2 separate regions of the Homo sapiens genome follow, and region 2 is linked to region 1. The links come from fine-mapping of genetic effects on gene expression. A gene starts in region 1. The other region holds a variant in brackets. All regions are shown on one strand. Distances are between the middles of the regions.

Evidence for each region.
Region 2: its variant is fine-mapped to the expression of TRDN in iPS cells (iPSCORE, PIP 0.95).

What each region holds. Positions count from the first base shown.
Region 1 is chr6:123,635,554-123,638,478 of GRCh38, reverse strand. It overlaps TRDN (triadin), which reads left to right and starts at 1,529. Exons shown (of 41, transcript NM_006073.4): 1 at 1,529-1,725. The coding sequence starts at 1,704. All of the region lies in intron 1 of LOC105377981 (a long non-coding RNA gene), which reads right to left.
Region 2 is chr6:123,584,382-123,587,306 of GRCh38, reverse strand. The region is part of intron 1 of TRDN (triadin); the gene reads left to right. Among named protein-coding and RNA genes, the nearest start is that of TRDN, 51 kb to the left of the region's middle. The variant A/G (reference allele first, on the strand shown) is at 1,581.

The sequences.
Region 1 (2,925 bases):
ACCAACCCAGAGCTCTGGGAAGCTGCTCTTGAGGATTTTGTATCTTTTCATCCCGCTAGTGGGCCTAATTTGCAGTGACCCCCTTTACCTTAAGTCATAGTATCTGCAACAAGGCCTCATTTCTTGGGGAAGATAGCAAACTTGTAGTTAAAAGGCTCTAGGCCCAGTCCTAGATATAGGAATTGAATAAAATCATGAATGTAATCATGTAATCATTTCCTCCTTGTAAATTAAGATTTGTTACTAATTTATGTATTCAGCTGGTAAATGAGCAACTTTCTATTGTGTCAGGAATGGGGGCAGTAGATTAAGACAGAACCACTAACAGGGAGGAGGTCATTGCCTATGGAAATAGCTGTTGCAGCACTCTTCTGAGCCTGAATTTTAAAAATAACAAACATGGCTTTGCTTCATGATCTATGAAGTACCATAGGAATTCGGGAGGTCTGAAAACGAAAAGTATCAAGTTCAAGCTAAAAGATTAAACTACAAGCATTTATTAGGTTGAATATGAGAATAAAATAAAAGTGTAGTCAACCCTTGATTATTCACAGATTGGCTAGAGTTTATGATTATCAATGCCCTTCGATTCTCCTTTTGCTTCCAACTACCAACTATTGAATATTTTTTTGCTCATTAACACCTGTCTAGGAGTGGGAAGGTGAAATGCTAATCAGCCAATTTGGTTAATTGTTAGTGGCTGCTATAATCCTTTTTTTTTTAAGTTGAGATAAGGAAATACTTTACTTAAATATTGGCTGTGGACTACTAAACTTTATGTCACCTTCCCTTCCTTTTTACTGCATGGATAAATGCAGGTATTTAGTTCTTAGTAAGGTAGTAGAGAGAATTAAAAAGATAGTAATTCATCAATCCAATGTTTTTCAAGTATCACACTATAAATTCACATTACATAATTCTTATTGGCCAGTGTTCAGAAAATATTAATCTTCTACAATATGACTACTTTAAAAGAAAGCTTCAAGATTTAATAGTTGCAATTTTAAGTGTAGCCCTATATAAATAACTGCACTTGCTAAGTGGATTTGTATCAACAGGAACATAACTTCTAGAAAATTACTCAAGACTACCCTCCCTTTTGCCTGTGATAGACATTTGGGACCCTCCCCAAACCAAATAAGGGAAAGAAGAATGTTCTGAGCATTAAGAGCACTAAGAATAAATCTGAGCTCTCACGGATAAGATTACTTTCAACTCTTTATTTCATGTTTTCTGACATAGACCCCAGGATCTGTAATTATCTTAGAGAAACTGCGGGGGCTTAGATGGTACTTTGTAGTTCATTTGGTTTTTTTTGTTTGTTTGTTTGTTTTTTGCCTTTCTCTCTTTGGGGCTGAAGAGCTGGTGTGTCTGTGTGTGTGTTCCTCTAGAGTGCCAAAAAAGAAAAAAAAAAGTGCTGAAGAGTCCTAGGGAGATGAGGCTATTTTTGTTTGAAGCTGATACTTCTAGCTGAGCCACAAGTGCTGCTTGGAAAGGGCTTAGGTTGTTTCCAGGGGGAGAACTCTGCAGAGGAGAGGCAAAGTTCAACAGGACAACAAAGAAGCAGCAGAAACAGCCAGGAAAACGAAGAGCCCCCAGGTTTTGACACAGAACCCTCCACCAGAGTTCTCAAATCCCCAAATACTCTGCAAAGTGCAACTTGACGGGAACTTTTCAACTGACTTTTACTTTTGACGACCACCATGACTGAGATCACTGCTGAAGGTATTGCTACCATTTTCCGATAGTATCAAGTAAGGAAAAAAAATATGCAAATCGACAGCCACATTAACTGTCGATGTGTCCATTTAAAATGTTGCTTTAAGGTAATTGCCTTGGTCAATGATTCTATACAGGATCTGAGAAGTGGATTTAGGAGCTGAGAGGCTGCCAGATCTGTATATTGGGGGAGCAAAAAGAGATTTCTCTTAAATTTTGCATGTGGAAACTGTTCTCTGCTATACCAAAGGCCCCACTAGTTAACAGTTGTTACTCACACCTCTATAAATAGCTATGGTCATGTAACATGATGGCCGATATCTTATCCAGCAAAAATTACAAAGTTTTCAAGGATGGAGACCATGATGAACTTAAAATATTACACTAATGCTTACTTAAAATATTACACTAATGCTTACTTAAACTTAAAAAGTAATTTGAAGCATTTCTGCTTTATGATATTTTTAAATGGAGACCTTAAATTTGTTTTTCCTTTCCTACTAGGGTATGTAAAACACACATACATATATATGATTTATATACAATTTAAGACATAAGTGTTCCCATAAAATTTGTATTTATTTGACCATTAATGGAAATTCAGAGATAAAGACTGGAATTCCACAAACTTACTGTGAATCAGTATGATTTTTAAAATAAAGCAATTAAGTGTTAGAATTCTGGTTCTTTTTGTAAATTCATTCTTCATTTTCCTCTAAATGGTAAATTCTATCTTTATGTTACAATAAATATTTTCTGTTTCAATGCTTTACTGAAAGCTACATACTATAATACATATCTTCTATTTGATGGTTGCTAGTTATATATATTTATATTTCATATATACTTCATATATATATGTACGTATTTCTTAGAATGAAGGAAACCTTCAAAACTAAATTACTTTGAATACAGACACAGTCTGGTTCTAGTTGAGGTAAAACTTTTGGAGGTGGATCTAAAATTTGCTTCTGACAGCTGTAAGAAAATCAGACAGGTGGTGCTCTTAACAACTTCCAAGTTAAATGCTGTGCTGGTTTGCTTTGAATAATACAACTGAAAAATAGAATATTTGTTTTTATTTTTGAGGGTAGAAATTAGTATGGACACACAGTAATTTCTGTTGGAGATTTTTAGTCAATATTTATAAGAAGTGCCTTATTTGTACCTTGCACTGAGAAATTCAGTCTGACACCTCGTATTAAT
Region 2 (2,925 bases), 51 kb after region 1:
AAACTCTGGCGCCAGTCATGGACTAGGGAAGGCAGCCTTCCCTTGGTGTTTAATCATTGGAGGGACACCTCTCTGATTATTCGTCCAGGTTTCAGAGGTGTCAGACCACGCAGGGACGCCTGCCTTGGTCCTTCATCCTTAGTGGCAAGTCCCGCTTTTCTGGGGAAGGGGCAAGTACCCCAACCCCTTCTCTCTGTGTCTCTACCTCTTTTCCACCTTTCTGGGGGGCAAGAAACCCCCAACCCCTTTTCCTTCACCCTGAGCAGCAAGTCCCGCTTTTCTAGAGGAGGGGCAAGTACCCCAACCTCATATCTCTGTGCCCCCATCCCTTATTTCCGTGCCCCAACCTCTTATATCGCTGTACCCCAATCCATTATTTCTGTGCCCTAACCTCTTATATCTCTGCACCCCAATCCCTTATTTCCATGCCCTGACCTTGTATCTCTGTGCCCCGACCCCTTTCCCGCTTTTCTGGAGGGTAAGAACCCCCAAACCCCTTCCCTCCATGTCTCTACTCTCTCTTTTCTCTGGGTTTGTCTCCTTCACTATGGGCAACCTTCCACCCTCCATTCCTCCTTCTTCTCCCTTAGTCTGTGTTCTTAAGAACTTAAAACCTCTTCAACTCTCATCTAACCTAAAATCTAAGTGTCTTATTTTCTTCTGCAATGCCGCTTGACCCCAATACAAACTCGACAGTAGTTCCAAATAGCCAGAAAACGGCACTTTCAATTTTTCCATCCTTCAAGATCTAAATAATTCTTGTTGTAAAATGGGCAAATGGTCTGAGGTGCCTGACATCCAGGCATTCTTTTACACATCAGTCCCTCTATAGTCTCTGTTCCCAATGCAACTCATCCCAAATCTTCCTCCTTTCCCTCCCACCTGTCCCCTCAGTCCCAACCCCAAGCATCACTGAGTCTTTCTACTCTTCCTTTTCTACAGACACATCTGACCTCTCCCCTCCTCGCCAGGCCGAGCTAGGTCCCAATTCTTCCTCAGCCTCCGGTCCTCCACCCTATAATCCTTTTATCATCTCCCCTCCTCACACCCGGTCCGGCTTACAGTTTCATTCCGTGACTAGCCCTCACCTGCCCAGCAATTTACTCTTAAAAAGGTGGCTGAAGCTAAAGGCATAGTCAAGGTTAATGCTCCTTTTTCTTTATCAGACCTCTCCCAAATCAGTGAGCATTTAGACTCTTTCATCAAATATGAAAAACCCAGCCCAGTTCATGACTCGTTTGGCAGCAACCCTGAGACACTTTACAGCCCTAGACCCTAAAAGGTCAAAAGGCCGTCTTATTCTCAAAATACATTTTATTACCCAATCTGCTCCCGACATTAAATAAAACTCCAAAAATTAAATTCTGGCCCTCAAACCCCACAACAGGATTTAATCAACCTCGCCTTCAAGGTGTACAATAATAGAAAAAAGTTGCAATTCCTTGCCTCCACTGTGAGACAAACCCCAGCCACATCTCCAGCACACAAGAACTTCCAAATGCCTGAACCACAGCGGGCAGGCGTTCCTCCAGAACCTCCTCCCCCAGGAGCTTGCTACAAGTGCCAGAAATCTGGCCACC[A/G]GGCCAAGGAATGCCTGCAGCCCAGGATTCCTCCTAAGCCACGTCCCATCTGTACGGAACCCCACTGGAAATCGGACTGTCCAACTCACCCGGCAGCCACTCCCAGAGCCCCTGGAACTCTGGCCCAAGGCTCTCAGACTCCTTCCCAGATCTTCTTGGCTTAGCGGCTGAAGACTGACGCTGCCCAATCGCCTCGGAAGCCCCCTAGACCATCATGGATGCCGAGCTTCGGGTAACTCTAACAGTGAAGGATAAGTCTGTCCCCATCTTAATCAATACCAAGGCTACTCACTCCACATTACCTTCTTTTCAAGGGCCTGTTTCCCTTGCCTCCATAACTGTTGTGGGTATTGATGGCCAGGCTTCTAAACCTCTTAAAAGTCCCCAACTCTGGTGCCAAATTAGACAATACTCTTTTAAGCACTCCTTTTAATTATCCCCACCTGCCCAGTTCCCTATTAGGCCGAGACACTTTAACTAAATTATCTGCTTCCCTGACTATTCCTGGATTACAGCTACATCTCATTGCTGCCCTTCTTCCCAATCCAAAGCCTCCTTTGCGTGCTCCTCTTGTATTCCCCCACCTTAACCCACAAGTATAAGATACCTCTACTCCCTCCTTGGCAACCGATCATGCACCCCTTACCATCTCATTAAAACCTAATCACCCTTACTCCAATCAATGCCAATATCCCATCCCACAGCATGCTTTGAAAGGATTAAAGCCTGTTATCACTTGCCTGCTACAGCATGGCCATTTAAAGCCTATAAACTCTCCTTACAATTCCCCCATTTTACCTGTCCTAAAACCAGACAAGCCTTACAAGTTAGTTCAGGATCTGCGCCTTATCAACCAAATTGTTTTGCCTATCCACCCCGTGGTTCCAAATCCATATACTCTCCTATCCTCAATACCTCCCTCCACAATCCATTATTCTGTTCTGGATCTCAAACATGCTTTCTTTACTATTCCTTTCCACCCTTCATCCCAGCCTCTCTTGGCTTTCACTTGGACTGACCCTGACACCCACTAGGCTCAGCAAATTACCTAGGCTGTACTGCCGCAAGGCTTCACAGACAGCCCCCATTACTTCAGTCAAGCCCAAATTTCATCCTCATCTGTTACCTATCTCGGCATAATCTCATAAAAACACACGTGCGTTCCCTGCTGATCGTGTCCGATTAATCTCCCAAACCTCAATCCCTTACAAAACAACAACTCCTTTCCTTCCTAGGCATGGTTAGTGCGGTCAGAATTCTTACACAAGAGCCAGGACCGCACCCTGTAGCCTTTCTGTCCAAACAACTTGACCTTACTGTTTTAGCCTAGGCATCATGTCTCCGT